Linked DNA regions of Homo sapiens. The protein of the gene in region 2 purifies or fractionates together with the protein of the main gene of each other region. This does not show direct contact. Each region holds a gene or a part of one and is shown on either strand. Other genes may lie near its edges.

Region 1 (12,977 bases), on a different chromosome or scaffold from region 2:
AGGATAGAAGCAAAAGAAGTACTCACTGCTTTCTCTTCATATACCCCTCAAAAATTGTGAGCTTACTCAGTGAGCTTGTATTTTTCTGATTTCCCACTGATAGAGATTCCATTTTTCCAAGGAGTAACTTTTTAGAAGAAAAATGTACAAATACTCTTTCTTTCATAAGAAAAATCTCAGGGAAGTTTCTTGTTTCAGGCAAGAATGGGGATACTCTTCCACTCTCTAAAAATGCAGATCATTTACTGCACCTAAAGACAAAGGTAAGGAAGTTTGTTTAGGCTCTGAATTCTAGAGCCTGAATTCTAGGCTCATAATTCCCATTCTGAATTTTGAGGTTACTTAGTTTGCATCATAAATTGTATAAATTCTAAAACTATTTGAATGAAGGACTGTGTCACCAGGACTGGGTTTCCTGTGATTATAAGTAGGACGTTGAGGATTTATTAGATGGATGTATACAGGAAATAGGTTTCTCTTCTTTTGATATTATTATGAAAATAATGTGCTTTTATTTATTTATTTATTTATTTATTTATTTATTTATTTTTGAGACGGAGTTTCACTCTTGTTGCCCAAGCTGGAGTGCAATGGCACCACCTCAGCTCACCGAAACCTCCGCCTCCTGGGTTCAAGCGATTCTCCTGCTTTAGCCCCCCAAGTAGCTGGGATTACATGCATGCGCCACCACGCCCGGCTAATTTTTTGTATTTTTAGTAGAGATGGGGTTGGTCAGGCTGGTCTTGAACTCCCGACCTCAGGTGATCCGCCCGCCTTGGCCTCCCAAAGTGCTGGGATTATAGGCGTGAGCCACCGCGCCCAGCCATGTGCATATTTTTAAAAACTCAAATAGTACAAAAGGGTATACAATGAAAAAAAAATCATTTTGTGAGTTTTTAAAAACTACATACATGTTACATTCAACTTTTCTTTATTCTCCAGATTCTTTTTTGTTTGGTTAGTTGGTTGGTTTTTTTGTTTGTTTGCTTACTTTTTTGAGGCAGGGTCTCATTGTGTTATCCAGGCTGGAGAGCAGTGGCACGGTCACGGCTCACTGCAGCCTCAACCTCCCAGGCTCAGGTGATCCTACCACTTCACCCTCCCAGGTAGCTGGGACTACAGGTGTGCACCACCATGCCCGGCTAATTTTTTGTAGAGTCAGGGTTTCACCATGTTGTCCAGACAGGTCTTGAACTCCTGGGCTCAAGCAATCCTCCACCTCAGCCTCCCAAAGTGCTGGGATTACAGGCATGACCCACTGTACCTGGCCTTCAAATGTTCTTCATTTGCTATTTCTTAGAAGTCTTTAAAGCAGAACGCCGTACACAAAACAGAAAATAAGTACTTCAAACCACCTATCCTCCAGAGCTTTCCTTCAGTAAATGCCTCCCTGCTCAGGTTTCTGAAGTTGGGGTCTAGTATGAGGCTATCTATGAAGTATTCAAAGGGCCAAAATAAGAATAGACCTCCATTCTTGGATTTGGAAATCAAAGCCATGCCTTTTAGGTGCTCTGCCTCTGAAATAATCATATTAATGCAGACCACACGAGGATCGAGATTATGTGTAGATATCTGTGGGTATGTCCAGAGTGGCAAGAGCTTGAGGCGTCATGTCCCAGTGCACCTTGTTATGTGAAGTTTAATTGCACATTCATCTTGATTCCTGATATTGCCAGGGTCCTGAGAACATTATCTGTAGCTGTATCTCCCCATGTGGAAGTTGGATAGCCTATTCTACAGTTTCTCGGTTTTTTCTCTATCGGCTGAATTATGAACATGACAACATAAGCCTCAAAAGGGTAAGTGATAGTCCAATATCTGGTCACATAAGAGGAAACTTCCTAAATATGTCATTTTTGTGTGAAGTGGAAATCAACTGGATGTGAATCCTTGCTCAGTTAAAAACTATTTGGAGATTTGGAGAAGGCTGTTATGAAACAGTGTTTTATTTCTTTCTTTCTTTTTTTTTTTTTTTTTGAGACGGAGTTTTGCTCTTGTCACCCAGGCTGTAGTGCAATGGCACAGTCTTGGCCCACTGCAACCTCCGCCTCTTGGGTTCAAGCGATTCCTGTGCTTCAGTCTCCCGAGTACCTGGGATTACAAGCACCCACCACCACACCTGGCTGATTTTTGTATTTTTAGTAGAGATGGAGTTTCACCACCCGTTGGCCATGCTGGTCCTGAACTCCTGACCTCAAGTGATTCACCCGCCTCAGCCTCCCAAAGTGCTGGGTGCTGGCATTACAGGCGTGAGCCACCGCACCCAGCCTTTTTTTTTTTTTTGACCGAGTTTCACTCTTGTCACCCAGGCTGGAGTGCAATGGCACCACCTCAGCTCACCGCAATCTCTGCCTCTCGGGTTCAAGCCATTCTCCTGCCTCAGCCTCCCGAGTAGCTGGGATTACAGGTGCCCACCACCAGGCCTGGCTACTTTTTGTATTTTTAGTAGAGATGGGGTTTCACCACGTTGGCCAGGCTGTCCTGAACTCCTGACCTCAGGTGATCCACCCCCTCAGCCTCCCAAAGTGCTGGGATCACAGGCATGAGACACTGCGCCCGGCCCACACCCAGCCTTTATTTCCATTTTGAAATTTTGAGGTATGTTCTTAGAGGGATAGGGTAATGCCCTACAGGCAATAAAATTAAAGCTTTTCTGTTTAGTGGTTTCACGTGCGACTTAGTTATTTCCTTGATAGAGAAGTGAATATTTAGTAAAGAGATGAAAGGGGGATGTATAGATTACTGGAGAGAAACCAGTGTTCTGTGCCGAGTCAGTTGGCTTACTTAGAGACAGGAAGCATTAATGTACCTTAAGCCTAGCTGTGATTGTTTCTGATGGGCTGTAGGTCTCCCTTCTCTCACTGGCTTTTATTATTGGTTCACCCAAAGGTTTCCAAAATGCCAGCATTCCTTCGCTCTGCCCTTCAGATTTTGTTTTCTGAAGATTCAACAAAGCTCTTTGTAGCATCAAATCAAGGAGCTCTGCATATTGTTCAGCTGTCAGGAGGAAGCTTCAAGCACCTGCATGCTTTCCAGCCTCAGTCAGGTGGGAATCTGGTAACTGGCCATGGGGAGACTTGTCGTGTCTAAGATGTAACTTTTTTGCTTTTAAGCCTCCATGTCGGGGGTTCCCTCATGTTCCTCCTACCCTGCAGATACACTCACTCACATGTTTGCTGTTTCAAGTAGGAGGAGATAGCTGGCAGATGAAGACTCTCGATGAGATCTGCAATGTTCTTCACACCTACTCTTTTCTCACTGGGTTTTTGATTCCTTATTTGGGGCCAGAGAAATTTCATCATCCTTAGTTTGTTAGCAGAACAAGAAGAAAGTTAAAGTCATTTGCAATCCTGACACCCAGAAATAGCTACCATTAATATTTTGGTATTTTCTAATATGTATTTGTATATAAGTATTTTGTGGGCATGTTGCCTTTTTTGGTTGTTTGTTCATAAAAAGGTACAATCATAGATGGCTGCCACCTCGACCTCTTGGGCTCAAGTTATCTTCCCATCTCAGCATCCTGAGTAGCTGGGACTATAGACACTCACCACTATGCCCAGCTAATTTTTTCATTTTTTTTGTAGAGACGGGGTCTCATTATGTTGACAAAGTTGGTCTTGAACTCCTGGGGTCAAGTGATCCTCCCATCCTGCCCTCCCAGCTGAGATTATAGGCATGAGCCACTGTGCCTGGCCCAAAAGTATTCTTATACATACAGTTTAATTACCTGTGTTCATATAATGTTCCTGAGAATTTTTCTGTTTTCATTGAGAATGTGAGTATTAATGAATGAGTGTGGCTATGTAGCTAGCTATGGCTAACTGTTAAGGACTTGGACTCAGTTTCCAGATTAAGCTGGTAGTTGTTTTGATACTTCCTATGGGCCTTTCACCTCTCCCTTGTCCTGGATTTTAGCTGCTGCTTCACTGTCATTTACACTCCCATCAGCCTGGAAAGTCAACTCTTTTTTTTTTTTTTTTTTTTTTTTTTTTTTGAGATGGCCTCACTCTGTTGCCGAGGCTGGAGTGCAGTGGTGCGATCATGGCTCACTGCAGCCTCACCCTCCCCAGGCTCAGAAAATCCTTCCACCTCAGCCTCCCAAGTACACAGGAGCATACCACCACACCCAGCTAAGTTTTGTATTTTTGTAGAGACAGGGTTTCACCATGTTGCCCATCCTGGTCTTAAACTCCTGGGCTGAAGCAATCCTCCTGCCTCAGCCTCCCAAAGTGCTAGGATTACAGGTGTGAGTCACCATGCCTAGTGAAAGTCAACTCTTTTATCTTCAACTCTCACTGTTCATAAGCTGATCCAGAAGCCTACAGGAGAAGAAACCCACAAGTTAGGGGTCAGATAAATCAAACTATTTATTATCTATATATGTTTTTATTACAAAACTTAGGCTATTTATCTTATATCTAGCTCTCCTTGAGATTCGACTCTACATTATGTATATGACTTTATTTTTTCCACTTCTCTCATCTCACTTCCCCTTGTAGTCAAAATGGTTTCTTCACAGCTCTCAAACCTGCATATTCTACTCCTCGTCACTTAGCTTGCACTGTTCCCCATCCTTTTTTCCTCATCCCCACCCATCCTTTGGCAGCTGGGTTATGCTTGTTATAAAGCCATGTTATCGTTTGGGGGCGTTACATGCAGCACGCATTTTGGCATAGAGCATCACTGTCCAATTTTTATCCCACACTAGTTGTCGTGTTGCCAGATTGGTTTAAAGTCTCTAGATGACAAAGATGGCTCAGACGTGCCCATCCTCCCTTAGTGCTAAATACACAGCAGGCATCCAATAAATTAAAGATATGCTTCAAGTCTATTGAACTTGCTGTTTGTCCGTAACTTTTTTTTTTATTATTAATTTATTTATTTTTGAGATAGAATTTCAAAAGACAGAGTTTCTTGTGCCCAGGCTGGAGTGCATTGGTGCCATCTCGGCTCACTGCAACCTTTGCCTCCCAGGTTCAAGTGATTCTCCTGCCTCAGCCTCCCTAGTAGCTGGGATTACAGGCACCCACAACCACGCCCAGCTATTTTTTTTTTGTACTCTTAGTAGAGATGGGGTTTCACCATCTTGGCCAGGCTGGTCTTGAACTCCTGACCTCAGGTAATCCACCTACCTCTGCCTCCCAAAGTGCTGGGATTACAGGTGTGAGCTACCACGCCTGGCCTGTCCATAATTTTGGCTTAAAAAAAATTTAGGGGCCGGGCACAGTGGCTCACACCTCCCAGCACTTTTGGAGGCCGAGGTGGGCAGATCATAAGGTCAAGAGATCGAGACCATGCTGACCAAAATGGTGAAACCCCATCTCTACTAAATATACAAAAATTAGCTGGGTGTGGTGGTGCACGCCTGTAGTCCCAGCTACTTGGGAGGCTGAGGCAGGAGAATGGCTTGAACCCGAGAGGCAGAGGTTGCAGTGAGCCGAGATTGCACCACTGCACTCCAGCCTGACAACAGAGTGAGACTCCGTCTAAAAAAAGAAAAAAGAAAGAGGCCAGGCACGGTGGCTCACGCCTGTAATCCCAGCACTTTGGGAGGCCAAGGTGGGCGGATCATCTGAGGTCAGGAGTTCAAGACCAGCCCAGCCAACATGGTGAAACCCCATCTCTACTAAAAATACAAAAATTAGCCAGGCATGGTGGTGGGTGCCTGTAATCCCAGCTAGTCAGGAGGCTGAGGCGGGTGAATCACTTGAATTTGGGAGTTGGAGGTTGGAGTGAGCGGATCCGCCACTGCACTCCAGCCCGAGTGACAGAGCTAGACTCCATCTCAAAAAAAAAAAAACAAAAAACAGAAAAAAAACCATTTGGTAGGAAAGGAGTTTGAAACAATTAAAGTATATATTTTAGTGGCAGATGCTGCCGTCATTCTCTATTCCTGTAGTAAGCAGTGTCTTAGGCCTGAGGAAGTAATAACTTCTGTTTTATCTCTCTGGACCTTCTTTACAGGCGGGATGGTTAAATAAGTAGATGAAAAAAGTAGAAACATTAACATCTAGAAGTAATTTGCACAGTGATCAGCAAATTATCCTGGCAGTGATTTAAAACTCTAATGGTCTCCTTGGCTTTTGCCATCATCTCCAGGGCAGGTCTGGCTGTGGACACTGTGTGAATTCAGAGATGTAACTGTTTTGTCCTCACAGGAACAGTGGAGGCCATGTGTCTTTTGGCAGTCAGTCCAGATGGGAATTGGCTAGCTGCATCAGGTACCAGTGCTGGAGTCCATGTCTACAACGTAAAACAGCTAAAGGTGAGCATAGGGTTTCATGGCAGCAGTTTGAATCATTGTACAGGAGCCAGTTCACCCTGCAGTTACAAGATTCAAGGCAGATTGGCATGACCTGGAAATTTATTAGACTTTTTTCTTTTTATTTTCTTTTCTTTTCTTTTTTTTTTTTTTTTGAGACAAAGTCTTACTCTGTCACCCAGGCTAGAGTGCAGTGGCGCGATCTCGGCTCACTGCAACCTCAGCCTCCCGGGTTCAAATGATTCTCCTGTCTCAGCCTCCTGAGTAGCTGGGATTACAGGTGTGTGCCTCCACACCTGGCTAATTTTTGTATTTTAATAGAGACAGGGTTTCACCGTGTTGCTCAGGCTGACCTTGAACTCCTGAGCTCAGGCAATCCGCCCACCTCGGCCTCCCAAAGTGCTAGGATTACAGGCATGAGCCACCGCGCCTGGCCAGACTTTTTTCTTTTTAACTAATAATTTTTCCAGGTTTGGAATCCTGTTTTATTTTTATGGAACCCGGAAGCTATACTGTGTAACATTAAAAGCAGCTAATGGAAACAGTGAAACCCATTCATACCTGGAAATTTGAAATTAATGATCTGTGGGTGATGTAAACACATCCAGGTTCTTTCTGTATTTTCGGGAGGAAAATTCTGATATACACAGACAAATAGTTGCAGATAATAAGAGTTCCTTTCATGGCTTGCCTTGTAATCTCAAGGTAAACATAATCAAAACTTCGAAAAAGGAATACTGGGAAAACATTTTTCACTAATCAGTAATGACGCTGTCAGTCATAAATTGAGTCATTAGTGATCCCTTACAAGTCCTCATCTTCATTATAAGAATCAGATTCGAACTACCCAAAACTTGGAATAAGCATTAAAAGTGTATAGAATAACATCAAACTGCAACACTTAATGGGTTTACCTGTTAACTGCATAGTGTAACCTTTGTTGCATTATGGTAGGAGCATGTACTGAGCACTTGTCTTTGAGCCTTGCCTGGCATTTAAAGAGTGTTTGTGTGTAGCGTGCACATGCTTTGCAATTGTACATAAAAATCCATGCCTAGGCATTTATTTATTTTAAACCTGGTGTAGAGCTGTAGACTCCCTATTCAATGACACATTTATAAGCAGTTTGTACAGATGGATTTACTCAGAGGGAAAGGCTTTACTCTCAGTTCTCCACAAACGCTGTTAGTTTTGTACGCGGTTAAATAAGCTTTTTATTTTTTTGAGACAGGGTTTCACTCTGTCACCCAGACTGAGTGCAGTGGCACAGTCACAGCTCACTGCAGCCTTGACCTCTCTGCTCAAGCGATCCTTCCACCTCAGTGTCCTGAGTAGCTGGGACTACAGGCGAGTCCCACCACACCTAGCTAATCTTTTTTTTTAGTAGAGATGAGGTTTTGCTGTGTTGCCCAGGCTGGTCTTGAACTCCTGGACTCAAGCGTTCCTCCCGCCCTGGCCCTTCCGAAGTGCTGTAGTTACAGGTGTGAGCCACTGCGCCCAGCCAATAGGCCTTTTGTTTTTTTTTTGAGATTGAGTCTTGCACTGTTGCCCAGGCTGGAGTGTGGTGGCGCAGTCTCTGCTCACTGCAACCTCCGCCTCCTAGGTTCAAGTGATTCTCCTGCCTCACCCTCCTGAGTAGCTGGGATTACAGGTGCACGCCACCACACCCAGCTAATTTTTTTAATTTTTGGTAGAGATGGGGTTTCACCATGTTGGCCAGGCTGGTCTCAAACTCCTGACCTCGTGATCCGCCTGCCTTGGCCTCCCAAAGTGCTGGGATTATAGGCATGAGCCACTGCGCCCGGCCAACCAATAGGTATTTTTTTAAGAAAATGAGGACTGGTGCGGTGGCTTACGCCTGTAATCCCAGCACTTTGGGAGGCCGAGGTGGGTGGATCATGAGGTCAGAAGTTCAAAACCAGCCCGGCCAACATAGTGAGACCCCGTTTCTACTAAAAATACAAAAATTAAGCCAGGTGCAGTGGTTCACGCCTATAATCCCAACACTTTGGGAGACCAAGGTGGGTGGATCACCTGAGGTCAGGAGTTTGAGACCAGCCTGGCCAACATGGTGAAACCCCGTCTCTACTAAAAATACAAAAATTAGCCAGGCATGGTGGTGGGTGCCTGTAATCCCAGCTGCTCGGGAGGCTGAGGCAGGAGAATCACTTGAAACCGGAAGGTGGAGGTTGCAGTGAGTCAAGATCATGCCATTGCACTCCAGCCTGGGAGAAAGAGTGAAACTCCATCTCAAAAAAAAAAAAAAAGAAAAACAAAAAATTAGCCGGGTGTGGTGGTAGGCGCCTGTAATCCCAGCTACTTGGGAGGCTGAGGCAGGAGAATCACTTGAACCTGGGAGGCAGAGGTTGCAGTGAGCTGATTATCACGCCACTGCACTCCAGCCTGGGTGACAAGAGCGAAACTCCATCTCAAAAAAAAAAAAAAGAGAAGAAAAAGAAATGAAAGTTCATTGGTTGGGGAAATGCCTGAAATTTTTGGAACTTCCCTAGAACCCTTTTGAATTATGAGGAGCAGTATTTAAACCCCTGACCTAGACCATTCAATCTTTGCTGAGGAAAAGTGTCACTTAGAGTTGCCACTTGTGTCTGTTATTTGTTCCCAGCTTCACTGCACGGTGCCTGCTTACAATTTCCCAGTGACTGCTATGGCTATTGCCCCCAATACCAACAACCTTGTCATCGCTCATTCGGACCAGCAGGTAAGGGAGATTCCAGTGCTTTCTATTCCCTTCCTGCTGGATAGTAACCTAGAAGCTGGAATATTGGGCAGTTGCGGGGAGCTTTTTTTTGAAGGTGTTGGAGGATATAAGGTAGTTTTCTCCTGTGTGAAGTAAAGCTTCCTTGCCGGTCTGGGCTCATCATAGGCCAGCAGTATGCATTGGTTTGATGGGATGCAATTTAAATGGAGAAGCACTAAGATTCTAGAGTAAAGAATCACAAGAGGGAGGAGGAATTTTGAAGTACTCATTTTCCTGATTGTTTTAGAGGAGAGATGACATGGGCTTGGGTATTAAACTGGATATGGGATGGAATAAGATTTTGAGAGTTGAAAGTGACTAAAAGATTGTATCATTCACCTTTACGCTTGCCGATGAGGAAATCAAGCCCTAATAAGATCAGGTACCTAATCTCAGCCAAAATTAGAACCTAATCTACTTTTTTCTATACCAATTTGTAAGGAGATTGTGATTATAAGGAGATCTTTAAAAAAAAAAAAACCTGGGCTGCGGAATATATTAGGAAGTTATCAATAATTATATTAGGAAGTTATCAATAATTCATCTGTAAAATTGGAGATGTTAATATCTACCTCACTGAGCTGTTGGGAAGATTAAATGTAATCCAGGAAGCACATTTAAGTAGAGTGCTAGGCAAATGATGCTTACTGCTTTGATGGTCAGTTTGTTTTTTTTTTTTTTTTTTTGAGACAGAGTCTCGCTCTGTCGCCCAGGCTGGAGTGCAGTGGTGCGATCTCCGATCACTGCAAGCTCCGCCTTCCGGGTTCATGTCATCCTCCTGCCTCAGCCTCCCGAGTAGCTGGACTACAGGCGCCCGCCACCATGCCCGGCTAATTTTTTGTATTTTTAGTAGAGATGGAGTTTCACCATGTTAGCCAGGATGGTCTCGATCTCCTGACCTTGTGATCCGCCCGCCTCGGCCTCCCAAAGTGCTGGGATTACAGGCTTGAGCCACCGCGCCCGGCTGATGGTCAGTTTTTACACTCACACATGCACACACACACTGTCCAAAAAGTGAAATCTCTCAGTTTTATAGATTTGAGTCCTTGACCAAAGACTGAAAGAGTAGTGAAGCCACACATCTTTGCCTTTGTCACACATAATGATAATTTCCCCCATGACACCTTTTACTGGCACTTAGTCCCTTAAGTGCTTCTGAAAGTAAAACTGATGGGAAGTTTTTTATATCTGTTAGATTAGCAAAGATCAAAGACTTGATAATATACAGTGTTCTGAAGGTATAGGGAAACAGTACTCTCACACATTGTGTAAATTATCCTAACCCTTTTGGAGGACATGTTGGCAATACCTTAAAAATTTTAAAGTCCACATGGTCTTTGACTTAGAAATTTCAGTTCTAATCATTCTTTATATATATATATATATATATATATATATGTATATATATATCTGTATATAGATATATATGCTTCTAGCTGTGCAAAAAGACATTTATACAGAGACAGCTTTGTTTGTAGTAGACAAAGATATGAAACAAGCTAATGTCCATTAAGCAGAGTGGATAAGTAAATCATGATACATGGACAAAATGAGTGGACTATTCTGTGTTTCAGAATGGGCATGACCGATATATATGTGTATTAATGTGGGTCAGTCTCCGTGATATAACACTGAGCAACAAAAGCAAGATACAGAACGCTATGTATTATGTGCATAAAATAGCTCTGAAAAGATGGGCAGGGCGCGGTGGCTCACGCCTGTAATCCCAGCACTTTGGGAGGCTGAGGCGGGCAGATCACGAGGTCAGGAGATCAAGACCATCCTGGCTAACACAGTGAAACCCCATCTCTACTAAAAATACAAAAAATTAGCCGGGCGTACTCGTGGGCGCCTATAGTCCCAGCTATTTGGGAGGCTGAGGCAGGAGAACGGCTTGAACCGGGGAGGCGGAGCTTGCAGTGAGCGGAGATCACGCCACTACACTCCAGCCTGTGTGGCAGAGTGAGACTCCATCTCAAAAAAAAAAAAAAGTGTTGGGAGAGCATAGAATGAATATAATACAGTTGAAGCTTTGTATAGATACTTTCTGGTTAGGGATGAGAATGCCCTTCTGGTCTTTCTGAGTACCAGCCTGCATTTCTCTATGTCATGTCCTCCCTCAGGTATTTGAGTACAGCATCCCAGACAAACAGTATACAGATTGGAGCCGGACTGTCCAGAAGCAGGGCTTTCACCACCTTTGGCTCCAAAGGGATACTCCTATCACACACATCAGTTTTCATCCCAAGAGACCGATGCACATCCTTCTCCATGATGCCTACATGTTCTGCATCATTGACAAGTCATTGGTGAGTTCTTCACTGCTACCTCCCAAATCTTCTTCTGAATCTTAAAGTTCTAAAAGCAACAAGTACAATAAGGTAAGAGGACAGAGACTCAGAATAAAGGTAGCTAGTAAATCAGAATACAGGTAGCTAGTACATTTCTTGGAGGAGAGGGGCTTTTGTTTTACAGATTCCCTGGTTTGTGTTCCCACAGTTCTTCGGGAGGCTCTCGGGGAAGGGGCTGGCCTTTGTATACTGGCTTTTGCTGATTTGACTATTTGTCTACTTTGCGAGTAAGCACATAAATCTTACACAGAAAAGTGATTAGGCCAGTATTCGGAAGGTGACCCTCATCCGGAAGTATCATTGATTTGGCTAACTTGCTTTCAACTTTGAACTCTGGGGTATCTGAATAACCTGGTTTCATTAAAGGAGGTACAGGCTGAGGTTTTGACCTCTGTGCCCCTTCGCTAAAGCTACTAAAACGCTGTCTGCAGGCTTGAGGAACTGGTCTTAACATCTTCGAAAAACCCAGCTAGGAAAATTCTTCATGGCTGTGATTTACATGGGATACGAGCATTTTCTTCAGTTTTAGATTCTGTCCTCTTTGCCAGCTGCTGTTTTGATTCACCCTGAATTTGTATGGCTTTTCTGGGCAGGTGCTTTGTTTCCTAGGAGCATTGTGGCCATGCCTGTCCTGCACTTTGGGCTTAGATTACAACCATCACACGGTGTTTTGGTGTGTTTGTGAAGGTGGGGGTGGAAGGAACATGGGGGAAAGCAGCAGATGGCTCTAAAGGAGGTGTGCACGGGGATGTGTCACTGGAATCATCTCGTGGGCCCTGCGACCTCTGGGTGTGGGAAGCAGAGCTGGCTGACAAGTGCCTTCTGCAAGATGAGTGATACAGGAAGGGCCCCTCCCACTCTCTTGCCTCTTTGTAATTGAGCCCAGATCATTTTTTCCAAAGCATTGGCTTTAAGTTCATCGCTTCCTTACAGTAGGCATAGCTATTTCCCAGGAAGTCAGAGACAAAATATCATTTCTTTGGCCAGAGGCCACCTCGAGGTGTCAGTGACATCAGCACAGGTGGTTTGTGTTGAGGTTTCGCCTGGGGAGAACTCCAGTCACTTGTCCAGTCTGTGATCTGGTTGGGGGAGAGTCTAGAAAGCACAGACCCTGTGTGGGCTGAGCTCCTGCACTTGCCAGTTTGTTCCATTCTGACAAAGTGATACTGATGAGACAGGCCAGAAGCCGCAGAAGGGCCCTTTGATCTTGCTGCATGGAGTTAACAAGCTCTCTTTGCCTCATACACCCACCCTCTACAGTGTGGCTGCAAGAGTAGCTTCAGCTCTTTCTCCCTCTCTCTCCTTTTCTTCTTTTTTTCCCCCCTAGTTTTTCTGAATAGAGGTATTATGGCTACAGCTGTTTTCCCGAATTAACGAATGTCAGGGAGGTACTGAATATATATGATGGTTAGAAGATGATGTTGGGCTCAAAATGCACTACAGATCTTTGGTCTGCAGAAGCCCAATAAAAGTAACCATTTAAACAATGTGTCTTTGTTTTTTTAGCCCCTTCCAAATGACAAAACCTTACTCTACAATCCATTTCCTCCCACGAATGAATCAGATGTCATCCGGAGGCGCACAGCTCATGCTTTTAAAATTT
Region 2 (9,417 bases):
AATGAGAAGTATAAACAGCTAAGGCATCGGGGAGAGGAAGACATATGCATAGTTACCAGCAGTTACATTTACTTCAACGTGACCTTAGGTCCCACATTAATAAACCAAATTTGAAATATTAATATGAACACTTAAATATATCTTTAGCTATGACTGTTGCTATTGGCAGATTTTAACTTTGGTCTCCTTTGTTACTGAGAATTCTTAGATTGAGACTTTTGAAAATTTTTTTAGACATAAGCCTTACGTTTTTCTTGTCTGGTTGTAATCAGCTTGGTGGGCTTTTTATTTTTATAACCAACTTTTATTTCAAAAAATAAAAATCTCAGTGTTGTTTCTCTGTTACCTAGCATGATTTTAAGCTGCTTCCTTCAAAATATTAGCTGGCATTTGAAAAGTATTATAAAATATTTTTAGTATAAAGTTTATATTTCAGTGTATATTTTATTACAAAATATTTTTATAATTTGGAATTAAAATGTTAATTGAATTGTAAAATTCAGTTGCACTTAAAGTGTGCAATGCCTTGTGCTGGTCAAAAATAATACTAAATCCTCTTTAAAAGTCTTGGTAAATTATAAAATGAGATTTTGATTTATACATACCACCACTAACCTATTGTGAACAAAGTCATAATTTCATTAGAATGTACATATTTTTAATAGAATTTATAAAATCCCTTAGGCTTGCAGGCTGTATATATTATTGTAAGATGATAAATCCATTTCACCATTTAAAAAATTTCTGATTTTAAAAGTAACATTTATTGTAGAAAAAATCTGAGTAAGGATAGAAAAATTCAATTTCTTTACTTAGAAGGTAATATTTTTCATTTTTTCTATACATCTTATTTTACATATTTGAGCTCATAATGTATATAAACCATTCCAATTCATCTTCCTTTAAACATTGTTCTAAGCATTTCCTTGAATCATCGACAACCCTAAATTCCTAATTGCTCTGTAAGTTTATCATATGGATATGCCACCATTTTCATATTTTCCTAATGTTGGATGCTTAGATTGTTTCTGGCACTCAGAAATTGTCACTAAGTTGTTAGAGGAATAGTATCTCTTTAAAAGTTTATATTTCTTTAATTACTAATTACATTTGAATATTTTTGCAGGTGTTAGTCATTTTTTCCTTTTTTTTTTTTTTTTTTTTTTTTTTTTTTTTGAGACAGTGTCTTGCCCTGTTGCCCAGGCTAAAATGCAGTGGCAAGATCTCAGCTCACTGCAACCTCTGCCTCCTGAGCTCAAGCGATCCTTTCACCTCAGCCTCCTGAGTATCTGGGACTACAGACACACACTCCCATGCCCAGCTAATGTTTTTAATTTTTTGTAGTGACAGGGTTTCACCATGTTGTCTAAGCTGGTCTTAAACTTCTGGGTTCAAGTGGTACTACTATGTTGGCCTCCCAAAGTGCTGGCATTACAGGCATGAGCCACTGCGCCCAGCCTATGGTTTTTGCTTTGTTTTGTTTTGTTTTTAATGAACCATTCCAATTTTTTATTCCAATGTTCCTCGTAGTACTTACTAATAATGCATATGGTCCTTTATATTAAGGATAATGACTATTTGGTAATACTTTTGGGAAATACAGTTTTGGTTTAATTTTTTTTCTGGTAAAGTAATCGTTAAATTTTGAAAATACAAATAAGAATATAGAAGAAAATCTGCTAGGTGCAGTGGTTCATGCCTGTAATCCCAGCGCTTTGAGAGGCCGAGGCTGGTGGATCACTTGAGGTCAGGAGTTCAAGACCAGCCTGGGCAACATGGTTAAACCGCGTCTCTGCTAAAAAATATAGAAGTTGGGCCGGGTGTGGTGGCTCACGCCAGCACTTTGGGAGGCCGAGGTGGGTGGATCACGAGGTCAGGAGTTCAAGACCAGACTGGCCAACATGGTGAAACCCCGTCTCTACTAAAAATACAAAAAAAATTAGCCAGGCGTAGTGGCACACACCTGTAATCCCAGCTACTCAGGAGGCTGAGGCAGGAGAATTGCTTGAACCCGGGCAGCAGAGGTTGCAGTGAGCCGAGATCGTGCTGCTGCACTCCAACCTTGGGCGACAGAGCTAGACTCCATCTCAAAAATATAATAAAAATTAAAAAAAGAACATAGGAGAAAATAAAACAGTCCATCAGGATTTCTAACATTAAATACACACACACACACACATACACATATATACACATACATTTTTTTTTTGAGACAGGGTCTTTATTGCCCAGGCTGGAATGCAGTAGCATGATTATAGCTCACTGCAGCCTCAAACTCCTGGGCTCAAGCAATCCTCCTATCTCAGTCTCACAGTGTGTGCCACCACACCCAGCTAATTTTCAAACATTTTTTGTAGAGGCAGGGTCTCACTATGTTGCCCAGGCTAGTCTCAAACTCCTGGTCTCAAGCGATCCTCTCATCTTGGCCTTCCAAAGTGCTGGAATTACAGGTGTGAGCTGCTGCACCTAGCCAAGTTTAATTTTAACTGAATTAATACTTCATGTTCTTCATGGTATTCTGCTTAGTTCATGTAACAATATAAAATAAAAACTGTATTAAATACTTTACATTTAAAAATATTACATGGTATTCCATTATATAGATATGCCACAAATAGTGCCTTAAAGATGGACCTTTAGTGTTGCATTGTTTACTACTCTAAACTTTGTGATGTTCTTAAGATAAATTATAAATGGAATTGCTGGGCCTGAATGTACTCACACCTTTAACTTCATGCAAATGATCCTTCCAAAAGGCTAATTCAATTCCCATTAGCAGCATTTAGAATACCTGTTTTCTTATAGCTCACTAAAAATGGATATTTCTATTTTTCTTAACTTTGAGGTATAGTTTACATGTAATAAATGGACTCATCTTAAGCATACAGTTCAATTAGTTTTGACCAACATATATGTACAGCCATGTAACCACCATCCCAATCAAGATACAGAATGCTTCCATCACCCCTAAAAAGTTCCCTCTTGCACATTTGCATCAGTTCCCCTTCTCACCCTAGGCTCTAGATAACCACAGATGTTTCCTGTCAGTGTAGGTTACATTCTGTCACTATATAGATGGATTCATACAGCATGTACTTTGGGGGCCTAGATTATTTTGCTTAGCATGTCTTTGAGATCCATCCCTGTTGCTGCTTGAATCAGCATGTCTTCCTTTATTGTTCAGCAAAAGGCCATTTTATAAATATACCAAAACTTGCTTATCAACATGTGAATAAACATTTGGGTCAATTCCAACCTGGGGCTATTGTGAATAAAGCTGCTGTATGCTTATATAGGTCTTTAAGCCATGACTCTCTAAAAAGAGGTAATCCACTTTCATACCTGGGAGGTCTGTGGACTCTAGGTATATCATCCACTATTTCAAATCAAGCAAATTTCCCAGAGGAAAGCCTAGATCTTGTTTTGGGATCAAATTAGCAGGATGAGGCAATGGTGCAAGATATAATTTTGAGAGCATCTTGGAAAGCTATCTGGAAAGCACCTGATCACCCTCCTCCTGTATCAGCAAGAAGCATAAGACTCCTAATGCTCACTGCCTTCCTCTGTCCACGTCTTCTGGCTCCAGACAAGTCTAAGAGTCCTGCCAAGTCAGTCCCTGTCCCCTCCCATGACAGGGGAGGGTCAGAGGAGAAAATAACGACAGGCATCATGCAGTTTAATGCCAGATCCCCTAAATAGCTCCAGAAGGCAGTAGCAGGGTCAGGCTACCCCACAGGCCACTTGAGCATCTGCCCAGTGGCCTCCAGGGTATTCCAGGTACTCTTCTCAGCTGCAAGAGAAATGTGTACTTTATACCTCAGGAGAGTTCTGTGCAGTGATTTACAGGGCCTACCTTCTGGAAGTAGAATGCTAACTTCTTAAGAGCAACAATCCTGCCTTATACGAATTTTTATACATGCAAGGTACATAGCAGATACTCAAATATGGTTCTGGGTAATGTATAATCTAAGCCCAAGATGTAGGCATGGACTCCTGACTTATAAGTATTCAATGTTTAATAGTTAAAATATGGCCTTTAACACTTCCAATGAAATATTTTCAGTTATCACTTTGAAATATTTTTCTTTGGAATTGAAACTAATGATGGAAATTTTATGTAGATGTATTGTAGACAGGTTGTTTTGTACCATTGTATTTTGAGAAAAGCCAGTAAACTTTATTCCTTCTCTTCCCTTCGCCATTCCCCTTCTGTAGCAGGGACCATTTGGGGGATGAACATGGGGGTTTGTTTTAGAGACAGAATCTTGCTTTGTTGTTCAGGCTATTCTGGAACCCCTGGCTTCAAGCTAGCATCCTGCCTCAGCCTGGGATTACAGGGGTGAACCACTGCACCTGGCCAGCAGGGGCCATTTTAGAGTAAGCTTTAAAATTCTAAGTTTTCAAAAAATTAAACTTGAAAAACAAGATAAACTTTGCAGTTATTTTTATTAAAAGCAATATGATAGCGAGTGGCACGTTTGCAATGGGAATCAGATTTTATAGAGAAGAATGGTTTACAGACAGCTTTTTAGGAAAATATCTCCCATCATAAAGGAGGGAGCTAGACCACTAAAGGAAAGCCTTCCGAGCCTTGCAGACCAAGAGAATCTGGACTGGGTCTGCTTGATTATCCAGGAGCTACATCACTAATGTTAGCTCTCATCTATTGCTCGTGGCAGAATGAGGTTTTTTATCAGGCATGTTTCTCTTCCCTCAGTTCACAGACATTGGGACCTTCGAGACAGTGTGGCAAGTCAAGTTCTACAATTACCACAAGCGGGATCACTGCCAGTGGGGAAGCCCCTTCTCTGTCATTGAGTATGAATGCAAGCCCAACGAGACACGCAGTCTGATGTGGGTGAACAAGGAGTCCTTCCTCTGAAAGTGGCTCTTTCTGATGCTACTGGACAATCTTTTCAGAAATCTACTTTTAGATAAACCAGCGCAGGCCTTAAACAAGGCATGCCACACCATTGCTGTTCCCCATCTGGTACTAATGACCTACTAGCCCTGGTTATTTTGAAAGTGTAATTCCCCTCTGACACAATATCCCTCACATACAAGATGGTGATGTACCACTCCCGAGAATATTCCCATCTGTATTTTGTGCTGATGTTCCTGCATCCAGTTGTTCTCGGTCATACTTTTGACCACTTGTGACTGGAGTTCAGTGGCCCTGGCAGGCTTGTCCTGCTCTTGACCATTCCACTGACTAACTTTGGTGTTTTGTTTCCAAGTTAAGTGATTCCTCCTTTTTTTTGTTCAATGTTAAATTTAAAAATAACAATGTGTATGGGTCCTCCCATGTGTAATATGGTAACATGTAACTTGCAGTGTTTGCCAGCTTTCAAAGCAGGCTTTGTGAAAATGTAATACAAACAGCAGTGAATGGGACTCAAATGTTGTGCTTCCTATAAACAGCTCCGCTCTTTCAGGGAAGGATGGTAACAAACTAGAAGGACAAATATGTACGTATTTATAACGTATTAAAACTCTTTTAAGTAGCTTAAGGTATTGTGCAATGGCCTAGCCTAGTAGAAATGGGGGAAAAGCATTGCTGTGGACCATTGTTAAAGTGACAGGAGTTGTAGGGTTACCCCTTTGACAAGCTTCCATAGTCTTCAGACACGCACATTGATGGCATCCCTACAGTCTTCTTCACTTGAACTTTGTAAAACTGCATATGGACCTGTAATCAACTTTTGATATTTCTTAATAAAGGCGTTGAAAATCATGCCCTGACTTGCATTCTTAATTTGGGCAATAATTATCTAGCAGGTGAATCCCTGCTCTAGGCCAGCTTCACTCAGGCCTGTATGCTACAGGATGACGGGGATGTATCCGGAGTAGAATTAGCACACCTATTCATGAATCAAGCCTGACCTTTTAGCAGGATTGCTCCAGCCAAGTTTAACAGGGCTAGCACAGGCCCAGGTGCTTGGCGGGCAATCAAAAAATGCTTGTACCTATCTCGCTCCATTACTCTTTCTGTGGTGACCCCTCCCCAGTTGGTGAGCTATGTGACTCAGTAGCAGGAGAGCAATGGTGCTATAATAGTGTGTGTACATCATGGTTGAGGCCTCCTTGCCTACTTCCAGCACCTTGCACAAAGCCCATATACCATACAGTTTAAGGATAAATTCCATAAGAAGGAAGTGAACTTCCTCTTGAAAAGTAACATGCTATTTTCCAATAATGTAATATTTACTTGGGCAGCACAAATCCTATAGTATTGGAAAAAGTTCGTTGGGGATTGTTTGTTTTTGCTACCTGTAAACCCTTCTTATAAGAAAATGCAAGCTACTGGGAGTATTTTTAAAAGTTGATTCATTGTAGAACTGAATTTGAAAGGCTGGCACTCAACACCTTTTCTACCTCCAAATCGCTTACCTGCAGTGATGCTGTACAGCCACCAGGGAACAGCAATGCCTTGCCTTTGGGGATCATAAATGATGTTAAAGGAGTGTAACATGTTTCTCAATAAGCTTGTGTTTTTTGTTTGTTTTTTTGTTTTTTTTTAAAGTCTTCATTACAATTGCTAAAACGTAAGTACTAACCCATTCCTAATGACTATTTTTTAAAACCAACACTCAATTATTTGAACAGACATTGAGATATTTAAAACAATGGATTTACTACAGAGGTTTTTCTTCCAGAATATCCAATAGAAATGCAGAGTGAATAAAAGATTTAAAATAAAAAGTGGGAACTACACAATTTAATATTTACTAATTTGATTAGTAAATATTTTCACTGGTGAAACAGGTTTTCAAGCCAGGGACTAGAGCTTGAGTATTTGTGTTGAGGGTGGAGACATTATCATGACTTTTGCAATAATCCACTCTTTTTTTTTTTTTTTTTTTTTGAGATGGAGTCTCACTCTGTCACCCAGACTGGAGTGCAGTGGCATGATCTTGTCTCACTGCAACCTCCACCTCCCAGGTTCAAGCAATTCTCCTGCCTCAGCCTCCTGAGTAGCTGGGATTACGGGCGTGTGCTACCACGCTCAGCTAATTTTTATATTTTTAGTAGAGATGGGGTTTCACCATGTTGGTCAAGCTGTTCTCAAACTCCTGACCTCGTGATCTACCTGCCTTGGCCTCCCAAAGGGCTGGGATTACAGGCGTGAGCCACTACGCTGGGCCCATACTTTTTTTTTTCTTTTTTAACTAAAGGCTTTATTTAGAGTTTGAAATGAGTCAAAGCAGACTTGGAGGAAACATGTCCTGGGATAGCTGCGCTGTTATCAGTGTCCCACAAACGAGCCAGAAGATGAGCCCTGGCAGAGCACCTGGAGCGTGGGAGTCCTGCTCACATCCTGGATGGTCACCACACCTTTCTCTGCCTCAGTTTGCTTATCTCTAAAATGAAGGGTTAGACTAGTAGAATTCTGAAGCCTTTTAAGAGTTATGGTTTGTTCCTCTATTTTATACTCCTTTAAAAAAAAAAGGGGAAAGTGTGTGTGCATATCTGTCTATGTCGTATGTGTATGTGTTTCCTTAGGGCCAGAAGTAAGGTTGAATCAAGGGAGTTGGGGAGGAGATGGAGATGAAGTAACAGAAAAACTTAACAGCTAATCTGCACGTTAAGTGATCGCTCCTGGCATATACTGTTCTACTTATGATTGGGCTCCAGCCCAGTCTCTCTGGCTACTTCTCACATAGCTCTCCTCCTACTCCAAAATTTGAGTGCTCAGCTATATCGAGCTGCTGAGTTGTAACTTTGCCCCTCAGCCATCTGGAAGGGCTATTTTTATACAAGTTGTAGCCACGTCTCTCTACCTCCAAGCATCAGATGGCTACCCAGAAGCTTGAGGAACTAGGCCATCCTTCCAATTATGATGATGACTAAAACACTTTTGAACAGGTGGAAGAATAGAAATGCCTTGAGTTTATATTTTGTGACACCTCGCTTACTGAGAAGTCACTTATCCAGCCATTTAAACTATCTGGATCACAGTTAAGAACAGAAAACATGCCAAAAAATAAAGATCCCTGTCACAGATGTCACCAAGTCCATTCACTAAAGGCTCGGGTCTTCTCCCAAGGCCTCTTGACTCCTGTTTTAGACACAATTCTAACATGTGGGGTGATCTGGTTTCTGACTCTTATGAAATTGGAAGTAGAACATGAAAGGGAAGAAGACAATTTGTAGAGGCAGATATACTGAAAATATTCTTTTTTTTTCAGAGAGGACAGAGAAAACTATAAAAAGCAGACAAAGTAAATCAAAAGAACAGTAGATGGGGACAACTGTATCCTGTAGGTACATAAATAATCCTGTATTAAACCACAGTAGTTTCTGTATATATCAAATAAAAATTGATAAGCCTAATGATATTCCTGATTCATTTAGAAAGAGGGCCCATTATCATCAGTAATGTATCATGGTTCAGTGTTTAAAAGCTCAGATTCTCCACCAAGCGCAGTGGCTCACGCCTGTAATCCCAGCACTTTGGGAAGCTGAAGCGAGTAGATCACTTCAGGTCAGGAGTTCAAGACCAGCCTGGCCAACATGGCAAAACCCCGTCTCTACTAAAAATGTAAAATTTACCCAGCATGGTGGTGCACGCCTGTAATCCCAGCTACTTGGGAGGCTGAGGAAGGAGAATCACTTGAACCCAGGAGGAGGAGGTTGCAGTGAGCCGGGATCATGCCACTGCACTCCAGCCTGGGCTTCAGAGGAGACTCCTTCTCAAAAAAAAAAAAAAAAAAAAAAAGTTCAGATTCTGGGCAAAAATACCTCAATTTAAATCCCAGCTCAGCTGTTTATTAGCTGTGTGGTCTTAGGCAAGTCACTTAATACCTCTGTGCCTCAATTTTCTCATTTGGAAAATGGAGATAATAGTATTTACCTTGCAGAATGGTTATGAGGATTAAATAAGTTAATGTACATTAAACCTTCAGAACAGTTCCTGGCACATAATATCATTATTTGGTATATTTCATTAAAAAAGAAAGGGAGCCTGGGCACGTTGGCTCATGTCTGTAATCCCAGCACTTTGGGGGGCCAATGCAGGTGGCTCGCTTGAGCCCAGGAGTTTGAGACCAGCCTAGGCAACATGGCCAAACCATGTCTCTATGAAAAACACAAAAATTAGCTGGGCGTGGTGGTGTGCAACTGTGGTCCCAGCTACTCAGGAGACTGAGGTGGAAGGATCTCTTGAGCCCTGGAAGTGGAGGTTGCAGTGAGCTGAGATCCTGCCACTACACTCCAGCCTGGGTGACACAGCAAGACTCTGTCTCAAAAAAAAAGAAAAAAAGAAAAGGAGCGATACATTTTCAAACAAAATTATTTAAAATGCCAAGAGAAAAACTAAAGGAGTTTAAAAAATAAAACTTATTTTCCTAAAATATTCCATGAATGGATTTCAGATAATGGCCAAACGTTATACTCTATTTTGATGCTTGGAAAGGT
Region 3 (8,985 bases), on a different chromosome or scaffold from region 2:
TGGGAGTTCACCTCAGCAGCATTGGCCAGCGCCTGAGCCTGTCCTCAGGGGAGCCCAGGCCGACTTGGGGGTGGCCTCAGGGGGTTCCTGGACACTGGTGAGGGAAGTGGGGAGGGTACCTTGAGGAAGAGTTTTGAGGAGATTGGAGGGTGGGGAGGGCAGGGGGCCGAGGGGCCGTGGGCTCTGCAGGGCTGACGTGGTACAGATGAGGAGGGGATCCCCGCAGCGTGATCTGCACTTGGGGTAGGGCCCTCTGAGGGCTGGTGGTTGTTCCATGGGGCAGTCGGGAGGGGCCAGCACATGAGGTGGGCTGGCCAGGCTGAGGTGCAGGGCCGAGGGCTTGGGTGAGGGGCATCTCCAGGAGGGTCCGGGCGTCGGGGTGGGGGTGGGGGCTGCAGTGGGCATGGAGGAACAGAGGGAGAGACTTAATTGGGGAGGGGGGACTGGACTGCTGAGGGACCCGCGGGCCGAGTTGCGCTTCATGTCTGAGGCCCAGGACTGAGTGGGCTGAGAGGCCCAAGAGTCAGCGCCTTTGGGTGGGTCTGGGAGGGGCTGCCATGCACAGTGAGCGCTCCCTGTGTGGGGCCTGGAGATGTGCCAGACACCCCGGTGAAGGTCCTGGGCCTGCCAGCTGAGTCCCCAAGACCCTGGCCAGTGCCGCTGGGTTCCCGGGGCTCCCCGAGCTAACCCCAGGCCTGTGGGCTCTGTTTTCTGGAGCAGGCGCCTGGTCAGGGACACCTCCTCAGCCCAAGTCCTCATTTTATGCATTTGGTGTTTTTCAGATTTTGCAAGAACGAGGCTCAAGGATGTGAGGGACACAGTATTGACAGCTGAAGAAATGATTTACGTTTTCCCGAGATGTAATGAACTGCCATGTCCAGGAAGCTTGGCTGTGAGAAGAAACCTGCTTTTGATCATTTTTCTAGAGATCTGGGTGTGAATCCTTTTTTGCCTCTGAGGTGGGTGGTGAGAGACGGGCCCAGCTGTCCAAGGCCAGACGTCCCCAAGTTGGGGGAGCACGGCGGCCGGGTGGGCGCTGCCTCTTGGGGGGGCCTCGCTCTGTTTTTTCCAAGTGCCACGTGGGACTGAGGCAGACACTCCCAGTCAGCCCGCTCGATCCTGAAGATCGTGTGAAGGAAGCGTTCTTGGTGCTACACACAGTCTGGAAAAGCAGCCTGGGCTTCACTGGCAGGAAGCGGCCGCAGCCGCGTCAGTGTCCAGCACGTCGTGGCCTCTGGTCCGACCACCAGGCCCTAGTCTCGGTCAGGGAGTCTGCTCTGCCTCCCAGGCGGGATCGCTGGTTTCTCTCGACCTCGCAGAGCTCCTGACAAAGGCGGCTTCTGCGTCGTCACTGCTTCCCGGCGCCATTCCGAGGCCGGGCCTTCTTCTGACACGGGCTCCAACCCCACCTGACCAAGCCCGGGACAGTCAAGGCTTCTCAATTTGTATTTTCCAGGCAAGAGAACTTTGTACCCCTTCTCTGTGTGGATAGACTCCCCAGCGTTTTTCCTCTGGAAATGCCCACAGGGCTTGCCGCGTGGAGACTGATCTGTTCCATCCGTTAGCGCGAGGTAGCAGTGTCGCCTCGCCCCTCCCACTGCGGGCTCACGGGGAGCTGGCGTCTGTCAGTGCCTTGTCACGCCTGGCATAGAGGTTGGGCTGGAGGCCTGTCCACTGGCTTCTGGAGCTGAAGGTCTGCGTCACGGTGAAAATTCGGGATGTTTACAGAGCATCACAAATGCCTCTCTCTCGCCGCTCTCTCATTTTCTTTGTATAACTATGCAGCCTTCCCTCTCTTTCTGGGATGTTTGGGACTTCACTCGACCTGCACGGGCTCTGCCCGACATGCCGTGGGAGCTGCTGGGATTCCTTTAGAAACCGCTGCCCGCATGCTTTGAAAACAGACCTTTCTCAGCTGGCTGTGGGGACCTGTCAGAGTCTGGGGACTCGGCGTGCAGGGCGGGCTCCAAGCGCTTTGCTTCCGGAACTCCGGCTTCCCAAGGGGTACTGTGCAGACTGACCACCGGCCTCCCGCCTGCAGGTCAGAGGCTCTGACACTGTCTGGTTTCCAATGCTTCTGGAGACTTCCTGCCTAGGCCTCATCCTCCTCTTTGCCAGTCACCTGATTAACCAATTCTCCAGCATTAGGACTTACCTCCTTCTTTTTGTAAGGTCTCTTGTATGTTGTTAAATGTTTGGCTTAAACAATTTATAAAAGCCTTTCTAGAAGGCAGACTTAGCCCCAGCAGAGCCTGGGAGGAAGGCGGCCGCTGGGGCTCCTGGGCATCCTCTCTGGGGAGCTGCTGGCCGCTTAGCGTTGTTTGATTTTTGACCTTGACATAGTAGATAGGCTTGTGGTTTTTTTAATTTAAAGATATTAAGACTTAATTCACTAAAATTTATTCTAAGGGGATATTTATACTTTTATACTTTTTTAGGTATCGTATTTTATCAGCTTACAGTTTAATGCCTAAGTTTCCCCTGGAAATAGCAAATAAAATTGTGTATTTATGAATGCGCGTAGTAGCTGTTTATGGTCTTAAGATGCAGGGGAATGCCACCCCGGGTCGCTCGGACCAAGGTGCTGCCCCTCCAAGCCGCCCAGCCCCACTGGCCGCGGCGGCTCACTCAGGGCTCTGCCTCTGCCTCTCAGTCGATGGCCAGGGCGGAGCTGGGCCATCCACGGGGTGCCGGCTTGGCCAGGGTCACTGGATCAGAGCTGCACGGCCCATCCCTGCACCCCACTCTGCCTGGACCCCTCACCTACCTCCAGCAGATAGCATACCCCCATCCCGGGAGACCGGAGACCATGTACAAGGGCCTTTTTTTTTCCTTAAGAGACAGGGGTCTTGCTATGTTGCCCAGGCTGGTCTTGAACTGCTGGGCTCAAGTGATCCTCCTGCCTCAGCCTCCTGAGCAGTTGGGATTACAGGCGTGAGCCATTGCGCGCGGCTCAAGTGATGTTTTTTTGAAAGTCCTGATACCTCAAGTTAGCATCCACCTCTCTTCCCTCACTTTAGCCTGCAGCCTGGGTTGTGACAGCAGGAGCTTCCCGAGAAGGTCCTGGGGTCCCGGCACCCCCTCGCCAGCTGCTGTGACTCCTCCTGGTGGCTGCTCCACGAAGCCTTGGCTGTTGGACTCCCCGCCCCCCCGCAGGGAGATTCCCATTCACGGTGTCCCCCAGGGCCTGGCTGTCTGAGGTCACAGAGCCTCAGGCTGTAGTGGCCTTGTCCATCCTGTTTCCAGGTGTGTGGCTGGCCCAGCCTGACCCCAGGGCCCTGGTGAGGGGTGGAGTGGGTGACTGGGCTTCTGGGTGCCCAGCATGAGGCCGGCACGGGGCTTGGAGTAGGGGAGAGACCCAGTTTCTGCTCCAAGGGGTCTTCCCGCTGCCCGACTCCCACCAGGAGCCTGGCTAGGCCTTACAGCCCCTTGACCAGGTAGAGTTGTGGGCACTTGGGAGAAGCCTCAGCGTGGCAGGCGTCCCCAGCCAAAGCCCGGAGCAGGTTTCCCATCCAAGCAAAAGGCTGTAAAGGAGACAGGCCCTGCAGTTTGGGTCCTGAAGCCGAGGATGCTCAGGGCCGCTGGGTCTGCTGGGCAGGGAGGGAGCCCTGTTCCTCCTCAGACCTTGGGCTCCAGCACAGCCCGCCCGCTGTGGGGACTGGGGCCCAGCCCTGTGGCTCCAGGAAGCCAGCGTGGGGGCAGAAGAGGAGGCAGGGGCGGGGCACATGCAGGTGCCCTGCGTGGGTGCCCGTCCTCCCCAGGCTTCCTGTAGAGCCCATGACTGGAGCCCTCCAGCGGCTGGCACCACCCTCCTTGACATCCCTGCATTTATTGGTGTCCACTCAGCAGGGACTTCTAGCACCCTCCTTCCTCCTAAAGCTCGTGGCAGTGGCCGGCTGGGGCGATGAAGAGCTGACCCCACAGTGCAGCCACCAAGGCCCTGACGTGGCATCTGTGTGAGGGACGATGACTTCCGGCACCTCTGCACTGAGCCGTGCCCCCCAAGATGGGTCACTTTGCCCTCAGACCACCTCTTCCTCCCCAGTGTTCCCAGGCCTGGGGCTCGGCACAGGGAGGCCTGGCCTGTGGCTGACCCCTCACCGCAGTTCTGGCCCGAATGGAGCCCACAGACTTCTTTCCTGGGGCTCCCGCTCCTGCTCTGTGTGTGTGTGTGTGTGTGTGTGTGTGTGTGTGTGTGTGTGTGTACCTACTGGCTGTACATGGTGTGGGTGTGGTGTGTGCCTGTGTGCACATGGTGTGTGTGGCATGCACATGTGTGCTGTATGTGATGTGTGGCATGTGGTGTGTGCTTGGTATGTGGTGTGTGCCTGTGTGTGGCATGTGACATGCATGTGTTGTGTGTGCCTGTGAGTGGCATGGGAATGGTGTGTGTATGTGTGCACATGGGCCAGCTGAGCCTGGGGATGAAGGCTGCCGCCCGCTCTGCCTACCTCCCTGTGAGCCACAGAATGTGCGCGGGCCTGTGCCAGGCTCTCCCTCGAGTCCCTCCTGGAGCTGGCAGGGGCCCTGCTGCCGCCCACCTGGCAGATGGCTCAGAGCCCTGCTTGGCAGCAGCGTGCAAAGTCTGAGCTGCACCCCCGCCCCAGGATGGAAAAGGGACCTGTGGCAACCTGGACTATTCCCTTCCTAACGTCCTTCTCACGGCATGCTTCGTGGGAGCTGTTAATTGCATGAAATAGCCCTGTTTTCCCTTCTCAACCCCTAGTCTCTGTAGAGAGTGTTTTCTGCTCCTCTCCCACGGGCATCTGCCTGTTGACATCCTGGGTCTGGGTGGGGTCTCAGCACAAAGACAGCAGGGGCTGCCCTCCCTAGACCATCTAACCTGTAGCCTCCCCTCTGACCACGGGGGCCTGGGGCTCCTTGCACAGCCCAGAGCAGGGTGCAGGTTCACCCAGGGCTCTCCGAGGCTGGGAGGCCTGGCCAGTCCCTGCTTGGCTAGGACCACCCAGTGCTGCTCCCTGGGCCTGCCTCTCCCTCCACCTGGGCTTCGTGCATCTGCTCCCCCATGGGGCTGTGCGCACAGGCCCCCCAGACCTGCCCACCCACCCCTGGGCTGGAGGAGTGCAAGAAATGGCCCACGGGGGCCACTGGGCAGCCGTTGGGGAGATGGGTCGGGCCCAGCGGGGAATTCCTTCTGTTTTGCTCCCCACGGTGTCCCCAGCAGCTGCTTGCTGAGTGGGTGTTGGTTTGATTCCTTGGTGGACACTCAGGGCCTGATTTCTTCCTGCCGCTGTACAGGCCACGGTGCCTGTGTGTGTGTGCACGGGTGCGTGTGGGTGTGATGTGCATGTCCAGCCTAATCCCCTTGCCACCACGCACTGCTCTGGACTCCTGCATGGGGGTGGAGACTGAGGGATGGGGCGGAGGAAGAGGAGCCAAGGGTCAAGGGGAGACGCCGGGGCACAGGGAGACGAAGGGTGCCAGGAGCAGTGGAGCAGGAAAGCACAGGTGTGGGCACCCACTCCTGCCGAAGTGGTTTAGAAAAGTTGGGTGGCCCCGAGACACGGGCAGCCGGAAGTGCAGGCTTGGGAGGCTGAGGTGCCCCCGCCCAGCCAGTCCCTCCATGCCCTCCTCTCGCCCCGGCACAGCTCCTGCATGGCCCTGAGGCTCTTTCCACCTGTGTCCGTCGCTGTCCCCAGTGCCAACCCTGGGGCGGCCTTTAAGGTGAGAGAACAGAGGCACAGGTGGCAGCAGGTGGCCTCCTGTGCGGGGCCCGTGACAGGGGTCCCATACTCTGGTGCTGTCCTCGCCTCGGGCACCAGCTGCAGCTCCCTTCTGCTGATTCAGAGATGACCAGAGCACTCCGCATCTCCCACCTGGGCTTCATCCTGCAACTCACAGCTCCTCACCCGCCGGGGTCCCCCAAGGATCCCCACGTGGGCAGCTGGCACACAGGCTGGGTTTTTATTGGGAGAAACATAAATAAAATAAGGGTATTTGAGAGGGGAGGAAGGAGCGCTATTTACAAATGAGTCTGGTGGGGCTCACAGGTGCAACAGCAGCGCTGGGAGGACCAGCAGGATGGTGTGGGCGGGCAGGCTGGGTGCAGAGCTCTGCTCAAGGGGCTCCTGGCCCCGGGGGTCTCACTTCTGGCCGCCCAACCTCGCTGGCTGGAACTGCAGTTTGGGGATGATCCGATGGATCCAGTTGTGGTGGGCGGTGACACGGATGTAGACACCTGGGCGGTTCTGGCGGGCACAGCCCTCACCCCAGCTGATCACCCCCGCCTGCAGCCACGACTGACCCACGAGGCACACCAGGGGGCCGCCCGAGTCGCCCTGCGGGGGACGCAGAGTCACCGTCAGAGCCCACCTTGAGTTCCCAGAGACTCAGTTGCAGCCGCACAGGAGGTGTGTAGCTCCGCAATGGATTCCTTCTCTCCATCCCAGAGCCTCTCTGCCCGGCTCCCCATCCCCTGCCAGTCCGATTGTCTAAAGTGCCTATTCTTTAGTGTCCCCAGATCAACTAGGGTGTGTGTGTGTGTTGAAAATGCAGTTTCTTGTGCCCCACCCCAGACCCACTGACTCTGATCCTTCTGGGGTGGGGTCCAGGAATCTGCTTTTTCTTTTTTTTTTTTATTGAGACGGAGTCTTGCTCTGTGGCCCAGGCTGGAGTGCACTGGCGCGATCTCGGCTCACTGCAAGCTCCGCCTCCCAGGTTCGCGCCATTCTCCTGCCTCAGCCTCCCAAGTAGCTGGGACTACAGGCGCCCACCACCACGCCTGGCTAATTTTTTGTATTTTTAGTAGAGATGGGGTTTCACTGTGTTAGCCAGGATGGTCTCCATCTCCTGACCTTGTGATCCACCCTCCTTGGCCTCCCAAAGTGCTGGGATTACAGGCGTGAGCCACCACACCCGGCCCTGGAATCTGCCTTTTCAAAACAAGCTGCTCAGCTGGTTGAATGCATAGCCCATGGAGCGGGGCATGATCCCACCCTGCCCTGGGCCTGGCGGTGGGGACTGAGTCCCCATGGACACCACATTGCTCCCACCTTGCAGGCATCCTTCTTGCCCTCCTCGAAGCCGGCGCACAGCATGTCATTCTTGATGGTTTTGGGTTGGTAGCCAAACTCGGTGTCTTTGCTGTAGAGCAGGTTGCACTTGGGTGTGTCGATGATGGGCACAGCGAGTTTCTGCAGGATCCGCGGTTCGGGCAGGAGGTCTGGAGAGGGGCGGAACAGCCCAGGGCTCAACGGACTTCCTCATCAAGAACCCACGGCCCCGGGAACCACCACTCCATCCTGCCTGTCGTTTCCTCATGTTTAGACCATCTCTGGCTTAGGGCACTGTGGGGCAGACATCCTCCCTCCTTCCAGGCAGCAGGCTGGGCCCTTTCTGTCCCCCTCTCCCTTCACCCCCTCTTCCTTCTGGGTCTGCTGCTGCTCCCCTCGGCCCCACCTGTGTGAACAGAGACCGTGTGTATGTATTAATATAGCAACAGGAAGATTGTGGGTTCAGAGTGGTCCCCAAGCCGTCCTGGGCCTTCTTGAGGCATATCCCCCATTCTTTCCCAGCCCTGTCCCCTTACCTTCCTCACTGGGGCTGCCCCAGCCAGTGACCCAGCAGTTCATGCCCGTCTCAAAGATCACCGAGGGGTCAGGCAGGCACACGGGGAGGATGTAATTGGTGAAGGGCACTGGTGCCTCCAGCTCCACCAGGGCCACGTCAGCGCTGGAGGCCGTGCCCTGGTACAGGGGGTTGCTCTCCACCTGCCTCACCCGGGCATACATAGCGTGTGGTCCCGGCTGCACTAGCTGCCTTGCCCCCAGCAGGACCTGGTACAGGGACGTCTCAGAGGTGCTGGCGGGAGAAACAGAGAGGCGGCGTGAGGCGGCCCCTCGTGTGGGGACAGGCCCGGGAGGGGCTGGGGCTCCTCTGGCCACCACCGTGCCCCACACCTCTCTCTGCACAATGTCTTCGAGAGTCATCTCTAGGACAGCCAGGTGCAGCGGTGATGCGTGTTGACATTGAAGCCAGACCGCCCGACTCAGATTTCCACCTCCACCCCTGGCCGCTGTGTGGCCTTGGGCAAGTCACTTAACAAGTTCTCTGTGATGCAGCTTTCTCACCTGTGCTGTGGGGACAGTCACAGTGCCTACCTGAAAGGCTGGCTCGGAGAGAACCACCCTCCAGGTGCAGCAGGGCCAGCCCCACCTGCGGGCCTCTGGCAGGTGACCTGCCCTCTCTCAGCCCGAGTTTCCGATTTTTTTTTTCCCCTAGAGACAGAGTTCTCATTCTGTCACCCAGGCTGGAGTGCAGCAGTGCAACTGTAGCTCACTGCAGCCTCCAACTCCTGGGCTCAAGCCATCCTCTCGCCTCAGCTTCCTGAGTACTTGGGACCACAGGCACCACTGCACCTGGGGTTTTTTTGTTTGTTTGTTTTTTGTTTTTTAATTTTTTTTTATTTTTAGTAGAGACAGGGTCTTGCTGTGTTGCCCGGGCTGGTCTTGAACTCCTGGGCTCAACTGATCTGCCCGCCTTGGCCTCCCAAAGTGCTGGGATTACGGGTGTGAGCCACCGTGCCTGGCCGTGAGTATCTGAATTTAAGATGTGGGGTTTTTTTTGTCATGATATTCTTTTAAAGATCAAGAAGAAAAAAAAGAAAAAGATGTGGGGTTTAAAATAATTAGAGCTGCGGTGTTGAGGTGTGAGGTGAGGGGGCCTGGGACACCCGGAAGGTGTGGGACCAGGTGGTTCATACATGGCAGAGGGCTGGGTGGCCTGGCCTCTGCTCAGGGCTTTCTGGGGTGGTTCAGGTGGGTGAGGGGAGGAAGGGCCGTTCTGTCTGGTCCTTGGGCTTTGTGAGCAGAGTTCCTCCCGGGAAGAGTGTCCTGGAGCTGAGGTGTGTGCGGGATGGGGAAAGGCCAGGAGGGGCCGGTGGGCAGAGCCTGCCGGGCCGCTTCTGCAGGGACCCACAGGGAGTGGGTGAGTGGGTGGAGGGGATGGAGGGGGTCGGGGGGCGGT

What was found.
Region 1: the proteins of CNRIP1 (region 2) and UTP4 purify together in Homo sapiens (affinity purification with mass spectrometry; 3 studies listed by BioGRID and IntAct, with this or other methods). This does not show direct contact.
Region 3: the proteins of CNRIP1 (region 2) and KCTD5 purify together in Homo sapiens (affinity purification with mass spectrometry; 2 studies listed by BioGRID and IntAct, with this or other methods). This does not show direct contact.

Annotation. Positions count from the first base shown.
Region 1 is NC_000016.10:69,154,195-69,167,171, forward strand, and holds part of UTP4 (U3 small nucleolar RNA-associated protein 4 homolog), read left to right. Parts: intron 1-198; coding exon 199-263; intron 264-1,676; coding exon 1,677-1,799; intron 1,800-2,889; coding exon 2,890-3,046; intron 3,047-6,161; coding exon 6,162-6,268; intron 6,269-8,888; coding exon 8,889-8,984; intron 8,985-11,146; coding exon 11,147-11,332; intron 11,333-12,880; coding exon 12,881-12,977. UniProt on the Homo sapiens protein: Ribosome biogenesis factor. Involved in nucleolar processing of pre-18S ribosomal RNA. Part of the small subunit (SSU) processome, first precursor of the small eukaryotic ribosomal subunit.
Region 2 is NC_000002.12:68,289,327-68,298,743, reverse strand, and holds the end of CNRIP1 (CB1 cannabinoid receptor-interacting protein 1), read left to right. Parts: intron 1-4,717; coding exon 4,718-4,882; 3' UTR 4,883-5,734; downstream 5,735-9,417.
Region 3 is NC_000016.10:2,706,516-2,715,500, forward strand, and holds the end of KCTD5 (BTB/POZ domain-containing protein KCTD5), read left to right. Parts: intron 1-782; coding exon 783-812; 3' UTR 813-2,515; downstream 2,516-8,985. Other genes in the region: PRSS27 (serine protease 27 isoform 1 precursor), read right to left, coding at 6,105-6,299, 7,014-7,183, 7,550-7,821. UniProt on the Homo sapiens protein: Its interaction with CUL3 suggests that it may act as a substrate adapter in some E3 ligase complex. Does not affect the function of Kv channel Kv2.1/KCNB1, Kv1.2/KCNA2, Kv4.2/KCND2 and Kv3.4/KCNC4.